4 separate regions of the Homo sapiens genome follow, and all the other regions are linked to region 4. Evidence: fine-mapped expression QTL. A gene starts in region 4. Each other region holds a variant in brackets. All regions are shown on one strand. Distances are from middle to middle.

Evidence for each region.
Region 1: its variant is fine-mapped to the expression of CD59 in esophagus mucosa (GTEx, PIP above 0.99).
Region 2: its variant is fine-mapped to the expression of CD59 in whole blood (TOPMed, PIP above 0.99).
Region 3: its variant is fine-mapped to the expression of CD59 in whole blood (TOPMed, PIP above 0.99). The same link has a PIP of 0.9 or more in blood mononuclear cells.

The regions. Positions count from the first base shown.
Region 1 is chr11:33,685,747-33,693,853 of GRCh38, reverse strand. No RefSeq gene overlaps it. Among named protein-coding and RNA genes, the nearest start is that of C11orf91, 11 kb to the left of the region's middle. RefSeq lists an enhancer at 2,528-3,727. The variant T/C (reference allele first, on the strand shown) is at 4,455.
Region 2 is chr11:33,696,978-33,705,084 of GRCh38, reverse strand. C11orf91 (chromosome 11 open reading frame 91) reads left to right here and starts at 4,259. Exons shown (of 2, transcript NM_001166692.2): 1 at 4,259-4,840; 2 at 6,571-6,824. The coding sequence starts at 4,345. The coding sequence ends at 6,656. CD59 (CD59 molecule (CD59 blood group)) reads left to right here. Exons shown (of 4, transcript NM_000611.6): 4 at 1-2,075. RefSeq lists silencers at 4,084-4,323, 4,504-4,593. The variant C/G (reference allele first, on the strand shown) is at 4,173.
Region 3 is chr11:33,779,701-33,787,807 of GRCh38, reverse strand. It overlaps the pseudogene SPICP1. Among named protein-coding and RNA genes, the nearest start is that of FBXO3-DT, 9.1 kb to the right of the region's middle. The variant G/T (reference allele first, on the strand shown) is at 4,542.
Region 4 is chr11:33,731,987-33,740,093 of GRCh38, reverse strand. It overlaps CD59 (CD59 molecule (CD59 blood group)), which reads left to right and starts at 3,671. Exons shown (of 4, transcript NM_000611.6): 1 at 3,671-3,712. RefSeq lists a silencer at 3,553-4,022 and an enhancer at 7,512-7,641.

The sequences.
Region 1 (8,107 bases), 46 kb after region 4:
AGGCACAAAGAGGTAAAGTAATGTGAGTCTGGTATTGCAGCTAGTAAATAGGAGAGGTAGAATTCAAACTCAGGGCTGACTCCAGAGCTTGTGTTCTGGTCCGCTGGGCCCACAAAGCCTCCTGTGAGCATAATGAACAGAGCAGTGTGGGGAGTACAGAGGGAGGTCCACCAGGTTCCTGCAGGAAATGCGTGGAACACCCAAATTGGCTAATTTGAAGAGCGTTTAATAAAGGGATTATGCTATAAACTGAATGTTTGTGTCCTTCCAAAATTCATATGTTGAAACCTAATCCCCTGTGCAATAGTATTAGGAGGTGGGATGTTTGAGAGGTGATTAGGTTATGAGGGTGGAGGGTGGAATGAGATTAGTGCCTTTATAAAAGAGGCCCAGCAAGCTTATTCACCACTCCTACCTTCTATGAACTAGGAAGCTGGCTCTTACCAGCCACCGAATCTGCTGGCATATTGATCTCGGACTTCCCAGCATCCAGAACTATGAGAAATTTCTATTGTTTAGACACCACCCCGTCTATGGTATTTTGTTATATCAGTCTGAATGGACTAAGACAGAGTGTTTACAAAGGTGCAGGCAGGGAATGCGGATTATCACCCACCGAGCTGTTGCTAACCCTAGGCGGGTAGGTGTGAGAGGAGGGAGTGGTTGCCAGAACCTGAGAACAGACAGGGCTGTGTGGAAAGGGTCCTTCATAAGTGTGACCCTTGTCTAGGGCCACAGGTAGCCCACAGTGACCCTGCTGAGGGGGAGCCCCTGCAGGGAGGGAGCCCCTGCAAGAGACAGATGGGGAGCACAGTGAGGTCAGGTCTTCCAATACATGTAAATACTGGTAGGGGGTGGTTTTGGTGTTGGCTAGGTTGCTTCCCACAACTTGGCAAGAGAGAATGGGGTTGATAGTTTGGTAGTATTACAGCCAAGGTCCCAGAAATGCCCACACTCAGGCCTGCCACCTCCCCAGTCACCCCATGGCTTGGACTAACTTTGGGCACAGGTCCTGTTACCGTCGGTTGGTGGGATGTAATTGTCATGTAATTGACAGCCCCTCAGAACAAAATGAAACAAAAGAGGCTGTTCCTCAAAGAAAAGGGCGCTTGGCAGAGGAAAGCAATAGAGAGCTTGATTGAGAGAACACCACATGCAAGGAATAATAGATAAATGCAGTGGTGTGCCGGAGCCAGTTTCTATGGGCTCACGAGAACTAATTGCCAAATTTTCAGGAATGTTATGAGCTGGTTATTAAATACAACCATTATTAAAAATTTAACCATATCAACTTTTAATTAAATCATATTTAAGACGAAGGTAACAAATATTCACAATTCATCACTTCCTAATTATTTTGCTACAGTTCTCTATCATCTGTACTCCTGAGCTCATTTATGCCTGTTGTGTCTGTGTGGTCGAAATACTACATAATGGTGTGCTAATGTGCATATCTTCTGAATGATGTCATGTGGGGTTTTTTTAAACTGGCCACGGGGAGTGTATTTACAACAAGGAAATTGGCAAATGTACAAATCAGGGTTGGCTCCCTCGGACCTCCACTGAGAAGAGCTGGTTGAAAAGAGTTTACCAGCACGCCACCAGCGACATGAAAAACAAAAGCCCCGCTTTATTTGTGGCTGAGCTAGAAGGAAAGCTGTTTTGGAGCATTCAAAGCTGGGATGATGGTATAAATGAAGCTCGCTGCTTCCTCTGGCTTGATTTGCCCACTCAGTGCCAGACAGGAAAGAGGCAGACAAGAGCCTGATTCACCCGTCCGTGGAGGCAGGCTTGTCCTGGGTCTGACTATTGCATGAACTCAGGGAAGAAGGAAAGCCCAACGTGCTGACTTTATTTTTTCTTTTTAATGCTTTTTAGAGACAGAGTCTTGTTCTGTCGCCCAGGCTGGAGTGCAGTGGTGTGATCTTAGCTCATTGCAGTCTCGAACTCCTGGGCTCAAGTGATCTTCCCACCTCAGCCTCCCAAGTCTTTGGCTAATTTTTAAATTCTTTTGTAGAGGTGGGGGTCTCACTTTGTCTCACCACCAGGCTGGTTTTGTACTTCTGGGCTCAAGCAATCCTCCTGCCTTGACGTCCCAAAGCACTAGGATTACAGGTGTGAGCCACTGCACCTGGCCCCCATGTCCTGACCTTTAAGATGTAGTAAACCTATCCACTGGGAAAGTGGGGTCAAAGGAATTGTCCTGGACTCTGGCCAGTCAGATCAATTAGCGATCTTTACTTTCAAGAAACTAGGGTAGAGGGAAAGCTGAGGTAGAGGCCTGTAGATGGAGGCTGAAGGCCTTCTGCAGTGCTGACTGTTTGGGCAAGATGAAGCATGAAACCTGATAGAACAGATAACCAGCTCTTTATATCATGATCCTTTCATCATAAGCTTATTACTCCTGAGAGAAATATAGACTTCAAGTGTGATGGGAAGACCTCCTGCTACCTTATCCAAGTCACCTGTGCCCACCCTCTGTGCCAAAGCGGTCAGGCAGGGTTCAGTGGAAGTCAGCTGGGAACAGAAGGAAGAGACATTTAATTACTGCTTTACGGCTTTTGTTCTCACTGGAGGTAAATACCTTGTTGGTGCCTCAGGGAATATTGGCCTTTTCCTTTGAACTCTGTCCTGATTCTGACATTAACCAGATCTGCGACCTTGGGAAAGTTACCCAGCCTCTCACAGCCTCTTTCCACATCAGGCAAATGGAGACGCTGCTTTCACAGGATGGGGGCTGGGAGTGGGGACAACAACAAAAAATGACAGATGTGAAACTGCCCCAAACTGGGAATCATTTTAATATTATTTTCCTGTTTGTGTAGTACACAGCCCTCATTGTTGAGTCACTGGTGCTGGAAGTGGTGGTGGCCACGAGATGTGAGCTGGAGGGAGGCCCAGTCCACAGGGAGGGAGAAGCATTCAATGCGCAGGCCCTGGAGCTCAGCCCCATAAGCAGCGACAAAGGGGGTGAATATGGCTGGGAAGCAGTTTGGGGAAGAGGGGTTTGTTTTCTAGAGGGAGCCAACCACATTCCTCCCAGGCAGTATCACATGGCCCACACCCAACAGACAAGGCCAAGGGCATGGCCTCTCTGTAGGCAGTCCCCAAAAGGAAGGGTGGATGGTCACCACCCAATCCTGTCATTCTGTCCACACCAGCGCATGAGCATATCCGAGAACATATCTGTGCCGAGCTGCCATGAAAGTGACTAAATAGTAATAACTTGCATTTGTCAGACTTCCCACCTAGCAGAAGTTTTGTGATTCATGAGGACATCCTGTTTCTGAGTAAGGAATCTTATCGTGATTTCCTTAAACTGTTGACATAGTGGTTAATGCATGCCTGACATGGAAAAGGATGCTGATTTGCTTCTGAATCATGAAGTTTTGCTGATTTGTTTCTGAATCATGAAACTTTGCTGTCTTGCCCGTAGACATTTTAGCCTGTAGGTTGTCATCTGTAGCCAGTGACTAATCTCTCTATTATACCTTCCAATAACAAAAAGACAACTCTTTGTATGAAGAGTCCTCCTCCCCTCTTCTAAACCTTCCCATAAAAGCTTTCTAACTTGTAACAGACTCTAGGACACTCCCAGCTTTGTTGGTGTGTCTTCCTGGGTCGATCCTCACATTTGGCTTCCAATAAACATTTATCAAGTTATTTCTGGTGAAACAGCTGTAATTTCAATCGACAATAGGAATCCAGAAAATCTATGATGCAAAGCTGAAGTATCACCTATTCCAGGTGCTCTTTGGTTTTGGGGGGAAACAGGCCACTCAAACTGACTTACTTGAGTAAAGAGAGTGACTGGCAATGGGCTTCTTGGATCACAAGCAATAGAAACTAAACTAAGGGAAATTTAAAAAGGCATCATCTGAACAAGGAAAGCAAAGGAATGAGGTGCTGCCACTGGACAACTCAGCTCCAACTACCAGTTCTTAGAAAATGTGATTGGCCCAGCTCGGGCTACGTTTCCATCTCTGTCCATGTTGCGGAGGAGGTGGCCAGGGTCCTGTGGTTGCATCCCCACCAGAACCACTTGGAACTGTGGAGCAGCTGCTTCCCAAAAGAAGGACCCTGGCTGCCAAAGATACATGGCTCCCTCATGGGCCTCGCGCAATTGGCACCAGGGCCTGGAAGCCACCAGGAGCCCAGGCAGCTCCCCTCCCATCTCTTTTTCACTGCATCCTCCTGCCTTTTGCAGTCAGCTTCCTTCCAACTTGGCTCCCAGGGAACTCACAAGAGTGGCATCAGGCTCCAAGTACACATGATCGCGAGCAGGCTGCTCTCCGTCTCTCATATTTTCTCCCCAAGAAATGGTAGTTGGAGCTGAGTTGTCCAGTGGCAACACCTCATTCCTTTCCTTCTAAATGTTCGGACGACACCTTTCTTAGTTTCCCTTAGTTTAGTTTCTGTTGCTCATTATCAAAGACACCCATTGCCAGTCACTC[T/C]CTTTACTTAAGCCAGGAGGAATGGCAGGGTGTGGCTAAGTATGCCCAGTTTATTCTTCCCCAAATTATGAATCACAAGTCCCCATCCATCACTGGGCATTGGGCGGGTAAAGAGGCAGGAAGAGGCCAGGACTCCCGTACTGCTCTTGGAAGGAAGCTGAAGGGAAGTGCTCCTCTCCCAACAGCATGGATGTCACTTCCTCCAGGAAGCCTTCCCTGATTCCAGTCCCCAGTCTGGGCTATGTGTCCCTTCTCTGAGCTCCCTTTGTACTCTGGGCATCCCCTTTCCTGGGACTTACTACCTGGATTATAATAGCCCATCAGTATGTCTCCCTAGCTCGACTGCGATCTTCTTAAGGGTAGGGCCTGTGTTGTCATCATCGTCATCCTGAGCACACGGTTTTGCACAAAGTGGACACTCCATGTGCTTAAGGAGCACGTTGCTGGCTGCGGATAGAGGGGAAAATGCAGTCTCAGCCTTGTGGTTTGACTTATGGTGGAAACGTCAATTGCATAAAATGATAAGAAAGGATGATCTAGATGCAATATCCTGGGACTCATCTGGGCCAAGTGCCTTTATGACAGGCTTGGGGATGGGGTCAAGATGTACCTTGAGTTCTTTACCAAGATTCAGAGACAGGCCTAAGACAGCTCTTTTTATCTGAGAAGTGGTATATAATTGCTGGATCTGGGGTCATACTGCCTGGGTTGAAATCCCAGCACACACCAGCTGTGTGACTTTGGACAAACTGCTTAACCTTTGTGTCTTTGTTTCGTCATTTATAAAATGAGGAGATTATATAGTACCCCCACTTCATAGGTTGCTATAAGGTTGAAGTAAGTTAATATGTATGAAGTACTCAGAACAATGCATAGTCCAAAGCCAGTACTCAATAGATGTTAATTATTCCATCTACTCATTCACAGAGTCAGCCAGGATTATCACTGTCATTTCAGAGTTTACCTGAATCCAGTACAAACATTCTGTAACTCTGAAAACAATGCATATAAACTAAGCCTGCATTCATTTACTCCTTTGTTTACTCATTTATTCATCCAATTGTTCTTTCAAAAAAAAAATAGATTCTTAACTCTCTAGGCCCTTTTTCTCATCTGGAAAAGGCGCACAATAATTCCCCCAGCCTGGGGTTGTTGCCAGTTACCTGAGATATGTATGTAAACTGCTCAGCTCATGATGTGACAAACAGCTAATGCTCACCATCATCTTTGCCTCTTTGGGTTCACTGGGCAATTTGCAACAAGGTTTCTGGTCATTAACACAAAATCCCCACATTTCTCTTATAGTGGGATCCACCAGGTGGCAGCATGGATTTAGACATGGGATGAAACGGTCTCCCCTTTCTAGTCCTCTCACATCCAGGGCTGACATTTATTAGCCTGTTCATTATAACCTAGGGAAAAATCCAATTTAGAAACCTTTTGGGAGGAGGAGACACTACAGCCATTGAAGGCTTTCATTGCAAAAATAAACAGGCACAGCACCTGGCCTTTCCCAGAGGCCTGCAGGTGGCTGTCTGCTGAGAGCCACATCTTACTCACCCAGGGAAAATCTGCTCTTTGTAGAACTGGTTTCAAGATGAAAAGTTCAGTTCACATGAACAAGAGAAGCTGGGCTGAACTCATTGACTCTTACTATGTGTATTGGTCTGCTTGGGCTGCTGTAACCAAATGCCACAGACTGGGTGGCTTAAAAAACAGACATTCATTTCTCACTGTTCTGGAAGCCGGGAAGTCCAAGATTAACCTGCTGGCTGATTTGGTTCCTGTTGAGGACTCTTTCTGGCTTGGAGATGGCTACCTTCTTCATGAGTCCTCATATGGCAAAGAGAGAGCTCTGGTGTCTCTTTCTCTTCTTATAAGGGCACTAATCCCATGATGAAGGCCCCACCCTCATGACCTCATTTAAACATAATTCTCTGTCTAAGGTTTCTGTCTCCAAATCCCATCACTTTGGGGGTTAGGGCTTCAATATATGAATTTAGCGGGGGACACAATTCAGTTCATAGCATTATCTACAATGTATTTCTAGTTTTTGTGTACTCTTCTGTTTGTCTACCTAGTTCCTATTATTCAGACATATATCTATTTATATAGACTATTGTTTATCTTTTTATTGTCTGTCGTTATTACTAGCCATTAATGTTGGGATGATCTTAGCACTGTCCAATAGAACTTTCTGAAATGGCAGAAATGTTCTATATCAGTGCCATTTACTATGGTGACCATCAGACACATGTAGCTATTGAGTTTTTAACATGTGGCTAGTGCAACTGGGAAAGTGAATTTTAAACTTTATTTCACTTTAGTTATTTAAATTTAACTTGAAATAGGCACGTGGCTATTGGTAACTACCATAGTGGACAGCTCAGATCTGAATAGAAGAATATATCTGCAGTTTCCCCTCTTAATTGATTAGATTGTGTTGAGTCTGGGAAGAGGTAATATTTGGGATTTCATGCAGGCTTGATTTCCAGAGTTAACTGTTGTGGGGGCAGGCAAAATGGCACATCTTTATAAATGAAGAAATAGGCTCAGGGAAATGAAGTCACTGCTGAAGCTGACACAGGGGGTCAATGGCTGAGCCTATTCCCTCCCTGCAAGGCTCCAGCTGGCAGCTTCTTCTTCTGTGCAGTCCTCCAGGAATCCAGGTCCCTTCTTCTCTCTCTTGGAGGTGACTTAGGAAGAGTCACTGGACAATCAGAATAGGCCCACTTGTCCAGTGTGTGGCATGTGAGTATGCGTGTTTGGGTGTATGCATGCGTGTATATGAGCAGGCTCTTGGCAGAGATTGTGTAACCTGCTACACAGAAACAAGGATGATGTGCAAATATGAATTGTCCACTGCGCCCTCCCCAATCCAGTCCATAATAACTGTTTATTTTAGGTGCATTTCAGGGACTGATGTCATTTTATAGTCTGTTTAATGCAACCATTCTAACGGGCCCGTTAGAGCACTGGAAAAGATGTGGTGGTGTCTGAGCACAGGAGAGTCCAGTCAGGGGGTTAGAGACACCCTTGGAGCTTCTCCCAAGCCCTGCCAGCTAGCAATTGCCAGCTACTGAGGAATTGCCAAGTGCCAGGCCCTGGGCTCAGCACCCTACATACAGCATCTCATCAATATTTACATCCCAACACATGAGGAAAATGGCCCCAGCCCCCATTTTATAGAGGCATCGAGAGGCATCTAGCTAGGATGTGGCTGAGCCACTCCAAAGCCTGAAGTCTTAAACTCTTAGCTCTTTTCTTCAGTGACTGGCTTCAAACTATTATATTTTCCCTGTTGTCCTTTAGCCCACAGCAGCCAGCTGATATGGAGAATGTTTGTGTGGGCAAACGTCTTAATTGCCAAGGGTATGGACTCCAGAGTGGGGACGGGCAAGTTCCCTCCTGATTTCATCACATGCAAATCATGCACATGCATCACTTTAACGACACTGTCCTTGAGCTGGTACAGGAGGAGACTTATGGATTTTCCCCAAATATAATCTTATTTTCCATGAGCTTACCATATGATTCTAGGAGTGAGTTCCATGTCATTTTTTTTTTTTTTTTTTGATAGAGTCTTGCTCCGTGGCCCAGACTACAGTGCAGTGATGCTATCATAGCTCACTGTAGCCTCAGACTCCTGGGCT
Region 2 (8,107 bases), 35 kb after region 4:
ACTAAACTACCTCTCAGGTTTATTTTTTTAAATTCTTACTCTGCAAGTACATAGGACCACATTTACCTGGGAAAACAAGAATAAAGGCTGCTCTGCATTTTTTAGAAACTTTTTTGAAAGGGAGATGGGAATGCCTGCACCCCCAAGTCCAGACCAACACAATGGTTAATTGAGATGAATAATAAAGGAAAGACTGTTCTGGGCTTCCCAGAATAGCTTGGTCCTTAAATTGTGGCACAAACAACCTCCTGTCAGAGCCAGCCTCCTGCCAGGAAGAGGGGTAGGAGACTAGAGGCCGTGTGTGCAGCCTTGCCCTGAAGGCTAGGGTGACAATTTGGAGGCTGTCCAAACACCCTGGCCTCTAGAGCTGGCCTGTCTATTTGAAATGCCGGCTCTGATGCTAATCGGCGACCCTCAGGCAAGTTACTTAACCTTACATGCCTCAGTTTTCTCATCTGGAAAATGAGAACCCTAGGTTTAGGGTTGTTAGAAAAGTTAAATGAGTTAAGACAAGTGCCTGGGACACAGTAGCCTCTTGTGTGTGTTTATCATTATGTCCTCAGCAGGTCGTAGAAGCAGCTTCTCAGGTGTGAGGCTGGCGCGATTATCTGGAGTGGGTTGGGTTTTCTAGGATGGACCCCCTGCTGCATTTTCCTCATTCATCCACCAGGGCTTAATGGGGAATCAAGGAATCCATGTGTAACTGTATAATAACTGTAGCCACACTCCAATGACCACCTACTAGTTGTCCCTGGCACTGCTTATACATATGTCCATCAAATCAATCCTATGAAGTAGATACTGTCTTCATTTTATAGATCAGAGACAATTGGGGTTCAGAGAGCTGATGTGATTTTCCCAGGGTCACAGAGAGTCCCAGATTCAGGCACAACTCTTGTATTCCAAGACACAACCACTACATGTCCAAAGGCTGCCCAGAGCCACCGGGCACGGCAAATTGTGACATATCCCTAAAGAGGCTGAGCACCTGGTCAGGATCTGATGGCTGACAGTGTGTCCAGATGCAGAGCTGGAGTGGGGGAGGGGAAGGGGGGCTCCTTGGGACAGAGAAGGCTTTCTGTGCTTTCTCTGAAGGGAGCAGTCTGAGGACCAAGGGAACCCGGCAAACAGCACCTCAGGTACTCCAGGCCCTCCTGGCTGGAGAGGGCTGTGGCAATGGAAAATTAGTGCCAACTGCAATGAGTCAGCCTCGGTTAAATAGAGAGTGAAGAATGCTGGACAGGAACCTCCACCCTCATGTCACATTTCTTCAGTGTGACCCTTCTGGCCCCTCTCCTCCTGACAGCGGAACAATGACTGCCCCGATAGGTGAGGCTGGAGGAAGAATCAGTCCTGTCCTTGGCAAGCTCTTCACTATGACAGTAAAGGCTCTCTGCCTGCTGCCAAGGCCTGTGACTTTCTAACCTGGCCTCACGCTGGGTAAGCTTAAGGTAGAGGTGCAGGATTAGCAAGCCCACCTGGCTACCAGGCCGACAGCTACATCTTTCAACTGACCCTGATCAACGAAGAGGGACTTGTGTCTCTCAGTTGGTTCCAAATGAAACCAGGGAGCAGGGGCGTTAGGAAGCTCCAACAGGATGGTACTTAATGGGGCATTTGAGTGGAGAGGTAGGTGACATAGTGCTTTGGAGCCCAGGGAGGGAAAGGTTCTGCTGAAGTTGAATTCAAGACTGTTCTTTCATCACAAACTTGAGTTTCCTGGACATTTGTTTGCAGAAACAACCGTAGGGTTTTGCCTTAACCTCGTGGGTTTATTATTACCTCATAGGGACTTTGCCTCCTGACAGCAGTTTATGGGTGTTCATTGTGGCACTTGAGTTTTCTTGCATACTTGTTAGAGAAACCAAGTTTGTCATCAACTTCTTATTTAACCCCCTGGCTATAACTTCATGGATTATGTTATAATTAAGCCATCCAGAGTAAAATCTGTTTAGATTATCTTGGAGTAAGGGGGAAAAAATCTGTAATTTTTTCTCCTCAACTAGATATATACATAAAAAATGATTGTATTGCTTCATTTAAAAAATATAACGCAAAATCTCTTTTCCTTCTAAGGGCCTTTAATATGTAATAACAAGAGCTAATGTTGAACACAAGCCATTGCCAGGTACTTAAACTGTCTCACTTAGTCTTGCCAACCTAAGCAAGTAGATGCCATTACTATTCCCATTATATTGATGAAAAAATGAGGTTGAGAAAGGTTCAGCCGCACAGCCAAATACATAGTGGATCCAGGGTTTGGTCCCAAGTCTTGAGTCCAAAACCCTGGTTCTTACCATTACTGTGGTTCTGTAGGGGTGAAAAAATTTTTCTTCTAATCTCTTAGGTTCAGAGCCTGGGGCCTGAGAATTAAACTGACAAAGACAGATTAACAGAAGACAAAGTTTATTACGCAGGTACATGGGGTTCTTACAGAAACAAAGTGAAAACCCAAAGAAGTGGCTTGAGAGCTTATATACAATTTTAACAATGGGCGATTGTAGAAAAGTGATAAGACAAAGGAAAAGAGGTTTGAGCTTCTTGGGCAGTAAATTATGGGAAGTTAAATATGTGGGGGAAACTAATGGAAGATAAGGGTATTTTTTATTTTATTTTATTTTATTTATTTTGAGACAGGGTCCTGCCTTGTCACCCAGGCTGGAGTGCAGTGCTATGATTGTGGCTCACTGCAGCCTCAACCTCAGCCTCCTTGGTTCAAGAAATCCTCCCACTTCAGCTCCTGAGTGGCTCCAGGCAAATGCCACCACACCTGGTTAATTTTTTAAATTATTTTATAGAGACAGAATCTCGCTATGTTGCCCCTGGCTGTTCTCAAACTCTTGGCCTCAAGAGATCCCACCTCAGACTCCCAGAGTGCTGGGATTACAGGCTGGGTGCTGAGCTATCGCACATGGCCTGTATTAGCCATAGACTGAGGGGAAATACATTTTCTTGAGAGCCTCAGCCTAGTGATCACTTGTATGAATAAACAATGATGGGTGGCTGCCAAAGTCAGAGAGCAAATACTGCGTGTGACAACTAAGTGTGGGAAGCTCAGTGTGGGAAGAAAAAGCTTCCCAGTTTCAGACATGCCCCTTAGTAGGGACAGCTGCCTCTTGTGTTTGGACAAAGTGTCCAAGTTCAAGTGTTTCACACACACACTGTTCCGTCTTCTGTTTGATCACAACCCTATGAGGCAGCCTGGTTTTCTTATTTCTATTTTATGGAAAACCTACTTAAAAGTCAAGCAACTTGTCCAAGGCTACCCAGCTTGAATATCTGACTCTCTCCACTTTGCTGCTACACACACACACACACACACACACACACTTTGCACTGTGTGTGCAGATACATATGCATATATATATTTAACTTGTGAAGCTGATACTGACTCTTTAACTGCCCTCCACCCATCACTAGTCATACCAGTGATCATTAGGCAGAGGCTCTCAAGAAAATGTATTAGTTATTTCCCCTCAGTCTATGGCTAATACAGGTTACTCACATAAATGAGCTGTCATGTCCTTTGGACAAAATGTCCAAATCGCTCATAAGCAATGGGTGAAGTATTTGAGGTAGGGCGGACAGGATTTCCTTTTGGTGGTTAGCTCGTTGCCTGTTAGCTCCTGGTGATATCTGTGTTTGGAAGAGAACTAAACTGCATTTCACTGAAAACACTCCTTCAGGTCTATTACAAACCAGATGAGGATCCCCTTTTCTAGAATCTTCCTCAACACTGCTAACGTTTGGCAGATACATAGGTTGGCTCTAACAGCCATTCCCAATCAATCCTCTTCTCCTTTGTCTGCCTCCCACAGTAGTGGATGAAAAATCAGACACTGATTTTCTCAGACTTCTTTGCTGTGGGCGCGGCCAGTGAGGCAATGAGGTAAGTCTGCTGGTGCAGGGGCCAGGTTTCTAGGAAATACTTTTCTCCCTCATGGGAGAAAGAGAGGAAGCCTGAAGTAAGCTTTCTTCTGCAGCCCTGGCCCGCTGCCTGTTCTGGATGAGGGTATGCTGGGATATGACAACGGAAGCCAGCGGGGTCGCAGAGCAAGAGCGAGGCGGTGGGCGGAGTCGAGGGACGGGAGGCGAGGCGAGGCGAGCCAGGGGGCGTGGCTTTCTAACTGCGGGGTGCGGCCAGCCGAGGTGGGCGGGGCCGCGTTCCGGGA[C/G]GTGGTCGTCCGGGCTTTGGAACCCCGCCTGTTAGGGGCCGGGCTGAGGCGAAAGGGTGGGGCCGCGCTCCATCGGGGCGGGGCTTGTGGAACCTCGAAACCCCGGCGACTCGGGGCCTGAGCGCGCGTCTCCCGGCGCGGGGTTCCTCCCACGCAGACCCTCATTCAAACGATGCCAAAGGGGCGGCGCGGCAGCCACAGCCCCACCATGAGCCAGCGGTCGGCTCCGCCCCTCTATTTCCCGTCCCTGTACGACCGCGGCATCTCCTCGTCCCCGCTCAGCGACTTCAACATCTGGAAGAAGCTCTTCGTGCCGCTGAAGGCGGGCGGGGCGCCAGTGGGCGGGGCGGCGGGGGCCCGGTCCCTGTCCCAGGCGCTCCCCGCCCCGGCGCCCCCGCCCCCGCCACCACCCGGCCTGGGTCCCTCCAGCGAGCGCCCCTGGCCCTCGCCCTGGCCCTCCGGCCTGGCCTCCATCCCCTACGAGCCTCTGCGCTTCTTCTACTCACCGCCGCCGGGGCCTGAGGTGGTTGCCTCGCCCCTGGTCCCCTGCCCCTCGACCCCCAGGCTCGCCTCTGCCTCCCACCCGGAGGAGCTCTGCGAGCTGGAGATCCGGATTAAGGAGCTGGAGTTGCTCACCATCACTGGGGACGGCTTCGACTCCCAGAGCTGTGCGTGACCTCGCCAGGGCCACCGAGCCCAGCCTTAGCCTGCCCTAGCTCCCTCCTTGGCTCCGTGCCCCGACCCGAAATGTAGCCTGGTTTGACTCCAGCCCCCAGTAGTCCCAGATCCAAAATCTATCCCCTAGCACCCAGACTCCCTTATCCTGGACTTAACCGACTCCTCCCCCCACCACAGATCTGAACTTCATGAGCCTCTTAGTCCCAAACTCCATCCTCCCTCCGTCCTAAACCCTTTGGGTCATCTGGACTCTGAGCCTCCACACCTGGAACTCCATCCGCCACCACCCCGTCCTGAACTTTAATCCTCCTGCACAGTCATCCTCCTACCCTGTACTCTGGAGCTCCACCCACCACAGACAGTCCCTAAGCTTTAATGTTCGGTCCTAAACCGGGGCTCTCCATGGGGGGAAGGTGAAGTAAGGTGACTGTCAGTTGTCTGTAGGGGGAGGTGGGAGTTGTGCAAGAACCACAAGGCCCAAGGCCGTTTCCAGGGCAGCTTTGGGACACTCCACTTCTCAATGCTGGGGGGCAGCCCCCCTGGGACTCTGTGGCCTTGGCGCCGGTAGTTCTCTCACCAGGATCCTGGGCTGATATCTGGTCTTACGTCTGAAGTCTTAGGGCTCTGGACCACGTGTGCTGATGCGGGCAGGATCCCTCAGCCTACGAGCTGAATGACTCCTCCCTGTTGGAGGGTAAAGTTGTTAAATGCCTTGTACTCCAAGAAGGACCTATTGCAAAGTAGAACTTTCAGTAGCGGTAGGTTGTCCTGCAGACTTTGTCTTTCCCATCACTTGTTTTGGCTAAGGCTTGTCCTTGACCACTGGAGAAGGGCAGATAGTTCTAAAAAGATCATTCCAACTATCGTATATAACGGCTTAAGTTGGCTTCCCCTGCCACACAGAGAAGGGAAGTATGAAATAACCTAAATGCTTAGGTCCGTGTGGCCATGGAAATGGTCTTCAGTTCATCAGACACACTGTAATGCACCCTTTCTCATAGCCATGGAAGGAAGACAGTCCCTAGAAAAACTGGGCTTTGCTAAGTCCTGGATTTCTTAACTATGAATACATACATAATACTATGTATTCATAGTTAAGAAATCTTAACCGAATACATAGTTAAGAAATCCAGGGGCCGGGTGTGGTGGCTGGCACTTGTAATCTCAGCACTTTGGGGGGGCCAATGCGGGTGGATCATTTGAGGTCAGGAGCCTGACCAACAAGAGGATCATTGAGGACCAGCCTGACCAACATGGTAAAACCCTGTCTCTACTAAAATACAAAAATGAGCCGGGCTTGGTGGCACACATTTGTAATCTCATCTACTCGGGAGGATGAGGCAGGAGAATCGCTTGAACCCAGGAGGCCGAGGTTGCAGTAAGCCAAGATTGTGCCACTGCACTCCAACCTGGGTGAAAGAGTGAGACTCCCTCTCAAAAAAAAAAAAAAAAAAAAAAAATTAGAAGAAGAAGAAATCCAGGACTTAGCAACTCTGACTGTAAAAACACATGTAACTGGATGTGTTGCATGTACAGTCAGAACCAGTTACATGTTTTTACAGTCAGAGTTTTCAGTTTTTTGTTTTTTTCTCTCCCATCTTGGATCACAAATGGAGTTTTAGGGTCGAGGAAGCACAGTTGCTTCCCAAGAGTTTGCTTTGGAAGTGTTAGGAAAAGCCCTTATCTCTATTACGGCTAAGTTTGTTTTGCTCTCCTGCAGACACATTCCTGAAGGCGCTAAAAGACGAAAAGTTACAAGGACTGAAGACCAAGCAACCTGGAAAGAAGTCGGCCTCTCTCTCCTGAGGAGCTGCCTACCAGAGCTTGGGCAGCCACCTCCTTAGGTGTTAGTGCTTAGATAATGTGTCCCATTTGTTGTCATTTCAAAGATGGTTATTTTCTGTTCTGTATTTACCGCTGTTCTTGTTGCTACCAGCATGTACTTCACATACAGTGCCCACTTTGTGTGGTAAATCTCATGGTCTCTCTCCTCTCTATGTGCTGCTGAGGGAGCTCTCTCATGGTGTCTAGAAGCTGCTGTCCAGCCAGCATTCAAGGTCTCCCGAGACCAGGGAGGGAACCCCCAACACTACCACAGTCATGCAAACCAGAACAACAGATTATCAGGAAGGAATCGGGAGAAACCAAGGGCAATGTATATATTGGTTCTACTGCTGTGTCTCTGCTCAGAAAGGTTCTTTGAGGACTGGAATAGTGGAGGTTTGGTGTGTGGTTTGTTTTTTTTCCCAAACATATTTACTCCTTGGAAGTGGTTGGTGTTTTCATTTTTTTTAAAATGTTTTTTGGACCACAAACTCTCTGATAATCTTATCAAAGCCCTGGACCTTCCTAGAAATTCATATATTCAAGAAATATTTATTGAGTGCTTATTTTGTGCCTAGGCACTTGGGATTGGGGGTGGGGGAGAGACAGACAATAAATATTATAAATAAGTAAATCATAATATGGTATCATAGAAGATGACATGCTAAGGGGGAAAAAAAAGCAGAGTAAGGATTGCCAGGGTGGGTCAGAGGAAGGCAGGGCAGAATTTCACATGGGGTTTCTTGAAGACGTATTATTTAAACAAGGTCTGAAGGAGGTTGAGGGTCATAGCCACGTGACACCCTAGGGAATGTGCCAGGTAGAAGGGCCAGTGCAAAGGCTGCTTCAAAGATGGGAGCATGGCAGCATTTTTGAGAACCAGCAAACAGTCCAGATGGCTGGAGCAGGAGGAGTGAGGGGAGAGTGGTAGGGGTGAATACACAGGGGGCCCATTTGTATAGAGCCTTATAGTCACAGTAAGGACTCTGGGCTTTACTCCAAGTGGGACAGAGTCATTAGACAGCCTTCTGGGGAGTGACAGGATCTGACTTGTGCTGCTGTGATATGAATAGACTACCGGGGTGCAAGCAAGGAGGCAGGGAGAGCAGTCAGGAGGCTGTAGTAATTAATATTCCAGCTAAAAAGACCATGCTGAGCCCGGCGTGGTGGTGCACACCTGTAGTCCCAGCTACTCAGGAGGCTGGGGTGGGAAGGATCGCTTGACCCCAGGTGTTCAAAGTTACAGTGAGCTATGACCATGCCACTGGCATGCCAGCTTGGGCAACAGAGCAAGACCCTGTCTCTAAAAATTAACCAAGTAAAAGATCATGCGGGTAGCAGTGGGTGTGGTGAGAAGTATCAGGCAATTGAAGCACAGAGTGGTAATCTAAGATAGGAGAACACAGGTGGAACAGGTTTTGGTGAGAAGGAGG
Region 3 (8,107 bases), 48 kb before region 4:
TATTAATAAAATATGACATGTGTTGAACAAGAGAAGCTGGGTCAAGCATTTGAGGATGCTTTTGAGGTTCTGAGGCAACATTCAACTGGAGATCTTCAGTACTCGCCAGATTACAAAAATTACCTGGCTTTAATCAACCATCGTCCTCATGTCAAAGGAAATTCCAGCTGCTATGGAGTGTTGCCTACAGAGGAGCCTGTCTATAATTGGAGAATGGTAATTAACAGTGCTGCGGACTTCTATTTTGAAGGAAATATTCATCAATCTCTGCAGAACATAACTGAAAACCAGCTGGTACAACCCACTGTTCTCCAGCAAAAGGGGAAAAGGCAGGAAGAAGCTCTGACTGTTTGAATACCTTCACGAATCCCTGTGTAATCCAGAGATGGCATCTTGTTTTCAGTGGGTAGATATAACCAAAGGCATCTTTCAGTTTGTATCAAAAAACAAAGAAAAACTTGCCGAGCTCTGGGGGAAAACAAAAGGCAACAAGGAGACCATGACTTACCAGAAAATGGCCAGGGCACTGAGAAATTACAGAGGAAGTGGGGAAATTACCAAAATCTGGAGGAAGCTGACTTAGCATTTCAGTGAGGCCATTCTCCAAAGACTCTCTCCATCCTATTTCCTGGGGAAAGAGATCTTCTACTCACAATGTGTTCAACCTGATCAAGAATATCTCAGTTTAAATAACTGTAATGCAAATTATAATTATACATATGCCAATTACCATGAGCTAAATCACCGTGATTGCTAAATATACTCTCATATTTCATGGTTTACTGTAATCAAAAATCCCTACAAGTCTTAAGGATTTCTCTCTCTCTCTCTTTTTTCCCTCCTCTGAAGAAATTTAGGATTTTTCTCTTAAAGCAAATACTAAAGAGGAAAAAAATTAACTATATTGTTGCTTTTATCAAAGAGCATGTAATCTATACTAACTTGTTGGGAAATTCTGCCAATGAACAACTTTTTTATAATACTTTGTGAAGATTCAGTGAACAACTTTATTGTTTCAAATGATCAAGCACATTTGAAAGTATAGACTAAATGTCCTTGCTCTGCTCTTACTATTCTCTTTTAAAATTTTTATTTTTTTATTTTATTATTTTTAAAGAGGTGTCAGCCAAGATAATCTTTTATTTTTATGGATTTAGGAGTACAAGTGCAGTTTTGTTGCTTTGATATATTGCATAGTGGTGAAGTATATTGTGTAGCATCCTCATCACCAGAATAGTGAACATTGTACCCAATAGGTAGGATTTCATCCCTCATCCCTCTGCCATCCTCCCACCTTTTGGAGCCTCCAGGGTCTATTACTCCATTCTGTATGTCCATGGCTAAGCTCCCAACTATACCCACTTTATTTTATTTTAAAAATTGTTTTCTTTTTCTGCATACTTCAATGGATGCAAAGTCTTTTTCTTTTTTCTTCTTTTCTTTTCACAGACGATGACTTCTTTTTGTTTGTTTGTTTGTTTGTTTTTGGCTACTAACTCCCAAGCTCAACACTGACAGTGACTTATATTTTTAATTTTTTTAAGAGGCAAAGCCTACCTCTGAAGCTCTTTTTTCTTTTCCCACTTCAATAAGCTGATCTAAATTTTTGTTATTCTCTATGCAACCACCTTCTTCTAGATTAACAGTGCCAGTACAGATGATTTTATTTATATATTGATTTCAGCGTTTTCTTGTCATGTACTCAGGTGAGAAAATTCACACCTTTATATCTGATGGCTTTACAAAAAAATTTTGTCAATGACTGCATATGATAAAGCCTTTGTGCCAAAATGGGTTCATGGCTTTAAAAACATCACTAGAAATGTCTATTCAGGTTCCTTACACATTTTTTTCTTTCCTTCTCTTTTATCTTACCCATTTTTACAACTTAAAGCTTTTTTTTTTTTTGTGAGACAAGGTCTCACTCTGTCACCCATGCTCAAGTGCAGTGACACAAACATGGCTGAAGCCCAGCTAATTTTTTTTTTTTTTTGTAGAGATTGTTTTGCCGTGTTGCCCAGGCTGGTCTCTAACTCCTGGGCTCAGGCGATCTGCCCACCTTGGCCTTCAAAAGTGCTGGGATTACAGGTGTGAGCCACCGAGCTGGCCCCAAAACTTTTTTAATGTTTAAATTTTACCACTATATTAAGGAGGAGTTACCCATTTTTTTAATTGCCTTTTTTCTTCCTTCTTATTAGGGAGGGGTAAGGAAGAAGACTTGGTCAGCAGAAAGCAGGCCTTAATTGCTTTTTTGTTTGTTTGTTTCATTGCTATTGAGTTGTTTGAGTTCCTTATATGTATTGGATATTAACCCCTTGTCAGATGTCTGGCTTGCAAATATTTTCTCCCATTCCATAGGTTGTCTCTTTACTCTGGTGATTGTTTCCTTTGCTGTGCAGAAGCTTTTTAGTTTGTTTTAGCTACACATCATGAACTAAGAAGCTCTTTAGTTTGATGTAATACCATTTGTCTATATTTAATTTTGTCGTCCTTTTGGGATCAAATCCAAAATATCATTACCCATACCAATGTCTTGTATGTTTCCCCTATGTTTTCTTTCTTTCCTTTCTCTTTCTTTCCTTCCTTCCTTCCTTCTTTCAGCTGTCATCTGACCCCCCTATGTTTTCTTCAAGTAGTTTTAGGGTTCTTGGTCTTATGTTTAAGTCTTTTTTCTTTTCTTTTCTTTTCTTCTCTTCTCTTCTCTCTCTCTCTCTCTTTCTTTTTCTTGTTGACAATTTTCCTGAGCAAACTAATACAGGAATCTTTATGTTTTTAATCCATTTTGAATTGACTTTGGTATATAGTGTTGAAATAAGGGTCCAATTTTATTTTTCTGTTTGCCAAAATTCAGTTTTCCATATACCATTTATTGAATAAAGCTGTCTTTTTCTTTTTGGCAAAAAAAAAAAAAAAAACTGAGTGATATAAGGAATAAGGCACCATGGGAGCTATCCAAAGCAAAGTCAGCGTCCATGTTCATCAAGGTGTCCTCGATCTGAGTTATGAGAACTCTCCATCCATTCCCTGAAGTCTAAATGGGAGGAGGGTATTGTTGCTTGTGTTAATTAATTATTTCTTGTGTCTTAGCTTGGGCCTACCCTTGCATAATCTCAGTGATGTGGGGCCTGGAAGGCTGAACACTACATTTCCCTGATGCTTTAACAAGCTGAGTTGCTTTTAGATACTGGGAGGTACTCATAGAAGAATGGAAAGCAGGGAGCGAGGAGGATTCTCTCGCTGTTTTTCAGCTTCTGCAGGCCTTCCTCTGAAGGTCCTCAGGCATTCTGAACCCCAGCCCCAGAGTTCCCTTTCAGTATCCAAAGCATTAGGTATGAGGTTGTCCCATATCAAAGGTCCAAGTACCAAACAAGAGGCACCCTCTTCAAGTAGGTCCTCTCTTCATAGGACATGTCCTGTATTTACTGATTGTGTCCTGTATCCTGTGTTGACTTTGTCAGGATGCCCTAAATGCCCTCTATTCATATCTTTCAGTAAACAACAAAATATTGCCAGTTAGAGCTACTTTTCTGCCATAGTAGTTAAATCTTAAGTAACCTAAACGCAACATAACTAAAACCCATACCTCTGCAAATAAAGTCCATATGGTCTCTACTGCAGATTTGGCTGAGAGTAGACCAAAAGTGGGGATTCAGAGGAAAAAGTACTGATTTTTCATATTCAAGGAAGGAAAAGATGAGGCAGGGTGCAGTGGCTCATGTCTGTAATCCCAGCACTTTGGGAGGCCGAGGCAGGTGGATCACCTGAGGCCAGGAGTTTGAGACCAGCCTGGCCAGCATGGTGAAACCCCGTCTCTACTAAAAATACAAAAATTAGCCAGGCATCATGGCGAGTGCCTGTAATCTTGGCTACTCAGGAGGCTGAAGCAGGAGAATCGCTTGAACTCGGGAGGCGGAGTTTGCAGTGAGCCTCGAGATTAAACCACTGCGCTCCAGTGTAGGCAACAGAGAGAGACTTCGTCTCAAAAAAAAAAAAAAAAGGAAAGAAAGGCAAAGATGATTATTTGGTCCAAGTCTCAAGTCATGAACAAGTAACCAGCATTAATTAGAGATCACTTATGGTCTGAAAAATCAACCAGTGACAGACTCACTCTAATAACCACATATCTAAAAGTCAGTAAATCACTGATAGCCCCAAGCTTGTGAAATTCAGCCAGTGACAGCCAGCAGATATTCAGTATACCAGCTCATAATGCTATGTTGAGCATGTTTTCTCAATAATGAATGTTCAGTGGGCAAAAGAATAAGTTGGCTATGAACACTGTATAAACTGTTACAATGTAAATGCAATATAGACAGTAAATGCAAGGAATTTTATAAACAAATTCTGCAAAACTAAGAAAACTTAAGGAGAGCCAAATCATCAGGGAAGTATAATTAAATAAAGAGGTAGGTAATTTATGTGCTTCTTCAGTTATTTCAGATAAAGAATGATTTTTATCATGCTTTATGTGGTATTCTTATTTTATTTCAAAGTATATATGCATAGGCAAGTACAAATAATTCAAATTTAATTTTTTTGGG[G/T]TTTTTTTTCCATTTTAGTTCAGTTATTTCCCTTGTTTTTTGTTGGTGGTGGTAATGCTGATGGCAGTGGTGGTGTGTGAGCCTGTGTGTGCCTGTGTGTGTGTGTGTGTGTCTGTGTCTGTGTGTGTGTGTGTGTGTGCACTAAATCTGGCAACCCTACCTTCAAGGTTTTGAGCATCTGCTGTGTGTTACCTGCCATGAGATACAAGCACCAGCTGTGAGGTGTCCTCTTTCAGAGATCTCAACGCCAACTTCGTGGGACCTCTCTTGAGAGAGCAGAGCATTAGGCCCTCAGGGAGCCCATGGCTCCTCTTTTTAGCCCTGAGGTTCTATAACCAAAGATCTTTTCCCCTTTGCTTCCACAGCCCTATGGTGAGAACTATTTCTGGCAGTCTGTCTTTGTTCAGGATGCTGTAACAAAATACTGTAGACTGGATAGCTTATAAACAACAGAAATCTGTTTCTCGCAATTCTGGAGGCTGGGAAGTCCAAGATCAAGGTGCCAAGCAGATTCACTGCTGAGGGCCCACTTCCTGGTTCATAGATAGTACCTTCTAGCTGTGCCCTCACGTGGTAGAAGAGGCAAGGCAGCTTTCTGGAGTTCCTTTTATAAGGGCACTAATCCTGTTAATGACCTAATCACCTGTCCAAGGCCCCATCTCCCAAAACCATCACTTTGGGGGTTAGGATTTCAACATATGCAGTTTGGAAGGACACAAACAGTCAGACCATAGCACTGTCTTGATTTCTGGATTAGCTCAGCATTCATCCTTTGCTCTTTCAACCTTCCCATATATGTTTAACAATTCCTTGTATTAAATCTCTTTTGAAATACCTAGCATGGTTTCTGTTCCCCTAAAGTACTTGGATACTCTCAACTGTGTGCTATTCCAAAAAAGAGTGTGAGGAGAGAGTGTCCTCTTTCTGATTATACTCTCCTCTGCCTGTTCCTCAAGTCCTGGGTGCCTAGTTGTTTGGCCAAGGCAGAAGGTAGTATGGTGCTGTGTAACTTGTAGCCCAAAACAGCTAAACCTACTAGGCTTGTAGACATCATCAGGTCACCGATGGACAGACTGGCACAGTTGGCCAAGAGTATGAGCTTTTTCAGTAACAGTGGCTACTATGTGTGTTGATGAAAGAATTCCTGGTTGGGTATCCCTGGTCTTTTGGGTGGTTCCATTACTGTGGTGAGTTAGAGCATAGATTCAATGGGCTGTGGTAGGTAGACATGATGCCCATATATGCTTGATCAGTCTTTTCAGGCAGCTGTTTTCCTCTAGATTTTGTCACTTATAATCTTTTCAATGGGGAGATCCCATAATTATGTCCCAAAGGCACATAATTAATATGTGCCTTTATTAATTCAGTCTTTAGGTGGCCCATGGCCTGACTAAATAGCTAGGCTATTACTGATGTTTCTGTGTGTGATGGCCATGGGAATATGCCACTCAGATCTCCTGCTGCAGGTAGCACAGTTGACAGACAATGCCAGTCTGCGGCTCACCATGCTTTTGCATCAAAACCATACCTCCCCTGGGCTGCTCCTAGCCAATGGCTGAGCATGGCAGGGGATTAGTGCAGGCCAATTCTGTGTGTCTCTGGACTTTCTACCAGGCAGCTTTGACTCAAGGACTCTCCACTGGCCTGTCTGAGACATTCTCAGAGCTGCAGTCCAACCCGAGACTCTCCCTGCCAAATCCGCCTTCTTTCATCTTCTCTTTTCACAGGTGTCAGACCTGCATCGTGGTCTGAAGGCACTCCTTGCCTACTCCTGCTTCCTCTCTTTTATCCTTCATAAGACTTTCCTGCCCTCTGCCCAGCCCCCGAATATATCTCTCATGAATCTAATCCTATCTTCACATTTGTTTTTTGGAGAATCCTAATTGACATATTGTGTAAAGGTTCATTTCCATCAATCTGGGAGCAGTATGCTCTACAGCCAAGAATAGCACCTGAAGTTTGGCCAATTATTCAGCATGCAAGCGTTGTGAGCCTCAGCAATTTATGGCATTGGTATTCCATGGAATTTGCCCATCTCAGAGACAAGCTATTTCAACAGTGAACCATGCTTCTTGTCAGATGCAAGTCTTGTCAAAGAGGCCCCAATAGGCCAACAGCTTAGGTTTAACAGTAGGTGGGTCTCTCCATGTCTAATGGGTGGGCAGCCACCTGTTGTTCCTGAAGTTGGCTAAGGTATTGGGGACCAGACTTGAACCTTGTAGGTTCAAGTTGTAGGTGCCATTGGTTGTAAGTGCCATTTCCATATTGCTACAGAACTTTCTGGGTATCTCAGTTCGGACAGGACCCAATGCAAAGTGACAATGTCAGGTGGCAAAGTCATCATTTTTCCTTTCAGTGACATTCTCTTTTTCCAGAAGGGGCTAGTTTCAGGCACAGCAGCAGAAGAAAGTCCTTGCAGGCTTGTCCTTGGTAAGAAGGTGGAGTCTCATTTCCAAAGCCTGTAATCACTGTGTGATTGATCATTGATATCTGTAATTCCATCTGAATAAGATAGGAGGCTCCAGGACAAGGTTTGCTTTACTGATGCCTGGATCACTTTCAAGGCTTCTTGCCATAGGTGTCCCCTTCTCAAATATAGTTAATTATTGGGTATATAAAGCCTGTTGTGGAATTTCCAGGTATAAAGGGTGATGTTTCCAAAACAGGCCAATCAGAGGTTAGGCATTCATCCCAACAGCAGCTAGTGGCCACAAGATTAGAACTTTGACTTTAATAGAGGATAGAATGTCTTTTTGGACTGTCGCACAAGAAGCCCCCAAAAAAGATGGGTGGCTGAATTGTTTCTTCTTCCTTGGAAGCCCATTCATCTTTGGTCAGCTTTTCTAAGCTGGAATGCAGTGGAGTTCATGTAGTACATTCGGTGGTGAGGTCATCGAGAGAGTGGAATGTTTGGCCCCAACCAGCAGTTCTCATTTTGTCAGCATTTGTTCAGCTCTCTGACAATGTACAATGTACTCCTGGGGAGTTTGTTACAGTACTGCTTGCCTTGGTGGATAAGGGCAAGTGATATCAGTCAGAGACCTCTCAAGAAACAGACAAAACATGCAAAGGAACATAACTAAACAGAATTCAGTGGGGACAATACTAAGAGAGTTATGAACCAGATAAGGGAACCAATGCGGGACAGTGAGGTGCCCAGGGATTAGTAATGGGGTGGGGGAGGGAAGCCGTTACCAACCCTGAAAAAGCAAGAGGCACAGTTCTAGCAGCTGGAGGGAGGGAACAGTATCATCAGAGCTGAGTGAGCTGGAGGTAGGAAAGAGGGCGCTGACAGGAGCTGTCTCCACCGAGGAACACAGCCCCAACCAAAATCCCAGGAGGTGGAGATGTATAAATACCTGAATGTCACTTTTCTCTGCCATTGTTCTCTCTTTGTTATCTGGCTTTCTCTTCCAGAAGCCAGATAACAAAGAAGCCCAGGTGAAGGAGTACCTAAAGATCAGCCTCCTAGGGCATGGAGAAGGGTAGAAAAGGTATAAAGAGTATTTTTTCTTTTTTTTTTTAAGCATTAGCTGGATGTGGTGGCACAAGCCTGTAGTTCTAGC
Region 4 (8,107 bases):
CTTCAAAGATGGCACCTTCTTGCTGTGTTTTATGTGGTGGAAAGAGCAAACAAACTTCCTCAGGCCTCTTTTATAAGGGCACTAATCCCCTTCATGAGGGCAGAGCCTAAAGGCCCTACCTCTTAATACTATTGCTTTAGGGATTGGATTTCAACAATTTGGGGGAACAAAAACATTCAGACCATAGCGTCAAACCACTTAATTTTTTCAAAACCGAACTTTTCCAATAAAGCAGTAATCAAAAACTAGTAAATCTTGGCAATTAAGGCTGGCCCTGGAATCCCTTGCCATTTTTTCTTTCTCTTTTCTGATGACCTCTCTCTCTATTTCCAGAGTACTTATGATGCCCCAAATCTCCCTTCCAACCCTGTCTAACCTTTGCTCCTCAGAATGCTTTGATTTGCTTTATCCTCTCATCAGAATTCACATTCTCTTAGTATGTTGAATGAGTGACCTCTAGTTCATACTGAGGTGTAGTTTTTTGTTTGTTTTTTCAGACAGTCTCGCTGTGTCTCCCAGACTGGAGTGCAGTGGCATGATCTCGGCTGACTCCAACCTCCGCCTCCCAGGTTCAAGTGATTCTTATGCCTCGGCCTCGTGGGTAGCTGGGATCACAGGTGTGCACTACCATGCCCTTTTTTGCATTTTTAGTAGAGCCAGGGTTTCACTATATTGACCAGGCTGGTCTCAAACTCCTGTCTTTAAGTGATCCTCCTGCCTCTGGCTCCCAAAGTGTTGGGATTACAGGTGTGAGCCACCGCGCCCGGCCTAACGTGAAGTTTGTTGGTAACAAGCTTCTGTATTTTCTGCTATTGGCAAGAATGCTTATTCACACGTAACAGGAATTTAACAGTTGGCATTAATGTTGCCCAAACCAGACTCTACTTTTGGTGGTGAAAAGGCCATTTCTGGCTCTGAGGACCCTTGAAAACACAACTGATTTTTTTTACTAATTTCTCTGAGGCTTGATATATCACTAGAATAAGACAAATACCTAAATTAACAGTAGCTTAAATAGTTTGGGGGTGGTTATTCTTGCGAATAGTCAGAGGTAGCTAGTTCAAGGCTGACATGATGGCACAGTGGTGTTATCAACAGTCCAGATTGGCTCCATCTTTCTGACCTGCCATCCTTAGCACAAGACTTTTCCTCTCAAAGACGATCATGGTTGCATACTGGCTGCTGCAGGCATATTGTATTCACAAAAGGATGATGATAACAAGGTAAAATGAAGTGGAAAATGAAAAGTGAGGCATGAGGCTGGAGAGGTAAACTAGCCAGGTCTCTAGCAGCCGTGTGGAGGGCAAGCAGAGAAGGGGCAGGGGATGCAGGAATTGACATGGGCAACATGGGGACCTGGTATTAAGGAATTGTAATGGCTCAAGCAACGCAAACTACAGATCTGAATTAGCACAGTAGCAATGTGAAAAAGGAATGAAATTGAGATATTGAAATGGTAAAATAGGCAGGAATGGCTGAGTAGATGTGAGGGAGTGGAAGAGGTCAACGTTGATTCCTAGGTTTCTGTCTTCATTTATGAAAAAAATTCAGGAAAAGCAGTCACTCTTTAAAGATGAATTCAGATTTGTGCACATTAAGTTCAAGATGTCTGTGGAACATATAAGTGGAGATGTCCAGCAGTCAGCTGGATATGAATATGAAGATAGGGGGAGTGGTCAGGGATGGAGACAGACTTTTGAATCATCTGCAAACATACATCCCAAGGTAAAAGAGTAGATACACTATAGTCTCCCAGGGAGCACACACAGCCATGGTTCTCAGTCTAATCCTGGGACACCAAATTATTAGTGGGTAAAGGAAAAGAATCTCAAGACCGAATGGTCAAGAAACCATTCTAGGGAACCAAACTAGGAGAGAGTGGCATCTCAGAAGCCAAGCGTGTCAAGGAAGGAATAGCTAACAGGATGTGTGTAAGGTATGTACACAAAAGAGCTTTGGAATCCATCTTGGGAAATATACAGTATTAGCTGTTTTAAGGAGACATGCTTTAAATATCAAAGCAAGTCATCCTGATTTAAAAAACTCCCACTTGTATAGAGGAATACCAGGATTTGAGCACCACCAAATGGAACTCATTCCCTGACATCCCAAAGCCATCAGAATAACAGTAGAAGCGTCAAGACAGTTACTATATGATTTTCCCTGCAAGACATTCAGTAATCTATGATTCCCCCTGCTTAAATTTTATCTCATGCCTTCTTCCCTGACCAGTTCAACACAAGCAGCCCTGAGATGTAATATCTTCTCACCCTGACCCTCAAAGTGTGTCTCATGCTTTCTAACAGAGGCCATCCTCTTGGAGGAAGACTTGTACTTTTGGCCTGTAGCCCCACCCTCCCTCCTATGGCGTTCTTACAGTCAGTTCTGCAGTGAGTGGGACACTTTCCAAATATAATAGCAAATGGAAACTTCTAATTACATCTGCACATAAAACTAATGTTCCAAATGGTGGTTGCGGTTCTGGTGAGTGCTTATAATTTTTTGTTACCTCAGCATCCATTTTTGAATATGTTTAACTTTTAATAACAGAAGCAAGTCTCAGTCACCATTGACAGTTTCCAGTACTATACCCCACGCAAATGGCTCTAGCTGGTGGCCAGAGATAAACATGCAGTGATGTGATAACAGGGCACTACTGCAGCTTCAAACTCTGGTTCAAGTTCCTCCCACCTCTGCCTTTTCACCTGCTTGCTTTTAAATCCACCAGTTAGAGCTCTCCAGAGGAAACCTAACTGGATAAAGTTGCTGGCCCAAAGGTCCGTTCCTCCCTTCCCTCTCCCTGTTCTCCCTGATCTCCGTGTGTGTGTGTGTGTGTGTGTGTGTGTGTGTGTGTGTGTCCTCTAGGCAAGCTGTGTACCACCCAGGGTCCGTAAGTACTAAAAACTCTTAAACTTTCACACCGCTGTGTTATTGAAACCATGCCTACAATCCAGTCCCTGAGGCGAGGCCACCCTGAAGGGACAGACTCATGCAGGCGGATCCCCTGGTCTTGCTCTTCTGTCCCTGCCTCTGGTGGCTGCTGGGGAACAGTAGCTACCAGCTAAGTTGATAGAGACACTCGAAGAGGTTCATTCAAAACACTGGTCCCCGAGCAGCCCAGTAAGCTTTTAAACGCATAACATTTTGTTTGGGTCTCAAACAAGTCACAAGGCACGGATACGGATGCGGCTGTGGCTGATGGCTATTTGGATGCTGCCCAAGCCTCGCAGTAGGAAGCAGCTTCAGACTGCAGCAGGGCCGCATAGCCCGATAGCCAGGCCCTGGGGCACCCAGGGCACCAGCAAGACGCACAGAAACGTTTTGAAAAACATTTTAATATACTTAAAAAAAAAGTAAAAGGGAAAATCAGAAGTCTTTGGAAGTTTCCTACTGTTTTTATGTCCCATAGCAAATCCGAGGAGGACGCCCCAAACTTTCAGTTCCCTGGGGTTTTGAAGGTGCTCATTGGGTCCTGGCCACCCGGCCTTCTCAGAACCTGGGCCAGGAGGCTGAGCTCCGCGCGGGGGTGGAGGGAGAGGAGGAGGTTCCTGCCGAGGTGCGGCTGCGCGGTGCGGGAGCCGGGAGCCTGGGAGGGCAAGGGCATCCTGAGGGGCGGGGCCGGGGGGCGGAGCCTTGCGGGCTGGAGCGAAAGAATGCGGGGGCTGAGCGCAGAAGCGGCTCGAGGCTGGAAGAGGATCTTGGGCGCCGCCAGGTAAGAAGGCCCGAAGGCCTGCTGGGGTTTGGGTGAGCCGAGCCGAGGTGGCGGCGGCAGTCTGGGCCCGGGCGGAGGGTCTGTGGGGGCTACCCCCGTCCTCGCTTTCCACTCGACCCCTGCCGGGCGAGCCTCCCGAGGCCTGGCCCTTCCAACCCGTCACCGCGGCCCGGTGTCCTAGCCGAACGCTGGCTTCATTTTATCTACGAGGAAGGAGAAACGGGGAGCGCGCCCTCTCCCAGAAGCAGCCCCGTTACCCCCGTCGCGCCCCCCATTCCCTCGGGGGCAGCCTCGCACCCGGGCCCCTGCCATCGCTTTCGTCTCAAGGGAAGCTCTAGCGGTCCAGAGAAACTGCGCCGGGGGAAAGGCCAGCCCTCCGTGGTCACGGCAGTTCCTCTCTCCCCTCGCGGTCTAAATGTGTAATTTTGAAAAGCAGGTGTCGGGCGAAACGGACTTTTTTTTTTTTTTGAGATGGAGTTTCGCTGTTGCCCAGGCTGGAGTGCAGTGGCGCGATCTGGGTTCACCGCAACCTCCGTGTACCGGGTTCAAGCGATTCTCCTGCCACAGCCTCCTGAGTAGCTGGGATTACAGGCATGCGCCACCATGCCTGGCTAAATTTTGTATTTTTAGTAGAAACGGGGTTTTCCCATGTTGGTCAGGCTGATCTTGAATTCCTGACCTCGTGATCCGCCCGCCTCCGCCTCCCAAAGTGTTGGGATTACAGGTGTGAGCCACCGCGCCCGGCCGAAACGGACGTTTTAAGTACAACGTGATGTTTTGTTTTCTTGGGTCGGCTCGGGCCGCACCCTTCTTAGAGTCTGACTGCTGACTTTTCAAAAAACAACATTAACCCGGGAGGCTGAGGTAGCGGTGAGCCGAGATCGCGCCATTGCCCTACTGCCTGGGCAATAAGAGCGAGACTCCGCCTCAAAAACGAACAAAACCCACAAAGAACAAACAAAAAAAACCAACATTAAGCAGTGTGCCTTTTATGGCCGTTTAGTGATACCCAGGCTCTTCACTGGTCATTTCTGGAAGTATTTAACAGCACTTGATGGGTAAAACAATAGGCTTCACTTCACAGGGTGGTTGAGATGATTGACGGAAAGCGCTCAGCACAAACGCGGCGGCTGCTAATTATTTCAGGTACCCTGCGATCCCTGAGCAGTTGTTCAAGTTCTCCACTCCTGGCGGTTTACTCCCAGTTCCCTGAAGAAGGCACAGAGCCCCGAATGTTGAGGGAGATGGCAACGTTTGCCAAAATGTGGCTATTTACGTGGCAGTTTATGAAGGAGAGGCAGAAAGGGAGGCTGCCTCCCCTACAAGCCAAACAGTCCTAAAACTTGTGGCCTCTGTATTTTCACAGTGGAAACTAGAAACTGTTTGCTGAACTTAGCTGTAAGAAAAACATCCCATTAGCTGAGTGGCTTAGGAGATAAAAGCCTAAATAAAATGGATCTTAGGGTGAGAGAGTGGGGTGCCTAATGGCATTCATCTTTGACAGCTGCTGGTAGAAGCTCTTGAAAAGTAGAGCATGGAAAATTCTGGGCCACCTCTTTAAGAACCTCAGCCAAACCGCCACAGACATTGCCAAGCCCAGAAGTGCTTGAGGCTTTCTAAAGGCAAAGACTTCTTTTTACTTATGTCCTATATCTTAGGAAACATATTCACTAAACCTTGGTTTTGCATGTGTACTTAACACGGGAGGGGCCGTGAGTGCGGAGATAGGACTCTTTGGAGAGTTAGGGATTGGCATTCCGGAACAAACTGCAGGAAAGGCCCTTGTAGGGGAAGCTGCAGATTTGTTTGGTCCAAAGAGTTCTGGCCTAATAAGTGGGAGCTGACCAATGAGAACACTTGGACACAGGGAGGGGAACAACACACACTGGCGCCTGTCGGCAGGTGGGGTGGGTGGGGATAGAGCATTAGGAAAAACAGCTAATGCATGCTGGGCTTAATACCTAGGTGATGGGTTGATAGGTGCAGCAAACCACCATGGTACACGTTTACCTATGAAACAAATCTGCACATCCTGCACATGTACCCTAGAATTTATATGTATATCACACAAAGAGTTTTGGAGTGGTTATTCCTGGCATGAGAACCTTGGCTGGATTGGAAAGCCTTTTCCGTTATGATGGTTGTTTTCTCTTTGTCTCTTCCTGCTGATGTAATTTGTTCCGTGAACTGAGTGATGGATGTTTGTCTGGGCGCTTCAACAGGCATGGCTAGAGCAGGTATTGTGTATGTCTCCAAGGTGACACGCAGACCTGGGGTTCAAAAGCTCTAGTTCTCTGACATTGCTGACACTAGGTATCTTGTGAGTTGCCAGCCCCTGGCGAATAGAAACAAGATCCATCCAGGGTGGTTTTGCGACTAACATGTTGCCTTGGGACAGGTAATTTCATCCCACTGGGCCTCCACTAATTTCCTATAAAATAAAAACATTGGGTTTTATTTTGAGGACACTTCTAGCCTTAAAATTCTTCAGTCTGTAAGGCCTCAGGCTCCTAGGAGGAGTAACCATACTCATGGGCAACTGTGAATCTTGTGGAAACACCACTGATGTCAACTCTCTTCTCTAATGACCTCAGCTTAACTAATGTATTTCAGAAGCTGAATTTATAAGAAGTCTCCCGTCTCCCCACTAGAGTTTAACTATGGTTCGTTCACTCAGAGCTTAGACCTGGGTTTAAATGCTGTTCTACCAGTTTCCAGTTCAGAGGTTGCTATAATAATTTTAATAATTTTTTTTTTTAATTTTGAGACAGTCTCTCTCTGTTGCCCAAGCTGGAGTGCAGTGGCACAGTCTTGGCTCACTGCAACCTCCACCTCCTGGGTGCAAGCGATTCTCGTGTCTCAGCCTCTCAAGTAGCTGGGATTACAGGTGAGTGCCACCACATCTGGCTAATTTTTGTATTTTTTTTAGTAGAGACAGGGTTTCACCATGTTGGCCAGGCTGGTCTGGAACTCCTGGCCTCAAGTGATCCACCCGCCTCAGCCTCCCAAAGTGCTGGGATTATAGGCATGAGCCACCACACTCGGCCTTATAATAATTTTCTACTGCTGCTGAAACCACCACAAATTTAGCTGTTTCAAATGCCACAAGTTTATTAATCTTTCCATTCTGTAAATCAGAAGTCTGACACAGGTCTCACAGGGCTGTAATCAAGGTGGCAGGGCTCTGTGCTGCTCTGGAGGCTCTAGGGGAGAGTCTGTTTCTGTGCTCATTCAGGTTCCTGGTAGAATATAGTCCTTGTGACTGGAGGACTGAGGTTCTGTTTCTTTGCTGAGTGTCAGTTGAGGACCATTCTTAGCTTCTAAAGGCCGCCTGTGTGCCTTGGCTTAGGGAACCCTTCGTGTCTTCATCTCATTCTTCAAATTTCTTGCCTCTTTTTCTGTTGTCGGTCATGAGTCTTTGACAGACTCTGCTACCTTCTTCCTCTTTCAATGACCCCTGGGATTACATTGGGCCCATTGAATAATCCAAAATAATCTCCTTAATCTCATCTACAAAGTCACTTGCCATGCAAGGTCTCCTGTTTTCACAGGTTCCTGGAGTTAGGATACGGACATTTTTGGGGAAGAGAGGCATTATTCTACCTACCACATAAGTTAGTTGCATAAATTAGTTCTCTTCCTCAATCTTGTTTCCTCCCCCTGTAATTGGAGGCAAAGGTTCAGTTTACCTTATGGTATTATTGTGAGGATTAACTCCAGTTACTATGTCAAGAGCATCTATCTTAGCAACTGGCCCTTGATATTTGCTCACCAAATGGAAGTTAACACAGGAACAAGGTGTATTAGTCCATTCTCACACTGCTATAAAGAAGTACCTGAGACTGGGTAATTTATAAAGAAAAGAGGTTTAATTGGCTCGCAGTTCTTTGGGCTGTATAGGCTTCTGCTTCTGGGAAGGCCTTAGGAAACTTAGAATCATGGTGGAGAAGGGGAAGCAAGAATGCCTTACTTGGCGGGAGCAGGAGGAAGACAGCAAAGGGGGAAGTGCTACACACTTTCAAACAACCAGATTTCCTAAGCTCTGCCACAAGACAGCACTAGGGGGATGGTGCTGAACTGTTAGAAACCACCCCATAATCCAGTCACCTCCCACCAGGTCCCTCCTCCGACACTGGGGATTAAAATTCAACATGAGATTTTGGAGGTGTATTAGTCCATTTTCATGCTGCTGATAAAGACATACCGAAGACTGGGTAATTTGTAAAGAAATAGAGGTTTAATGGACTCACAGTTCCACGTGGCTAGGGATGCCTCACAATCATGGCAGAGGGTGAAAGGCACGTCTTACTGGCAGCAGACAAGACAGAAATATGAGAGCCAAGTGAAAGGGGAAACCCCTTATAAAACCATCAGCTCTTGTGTGACTTATTCACT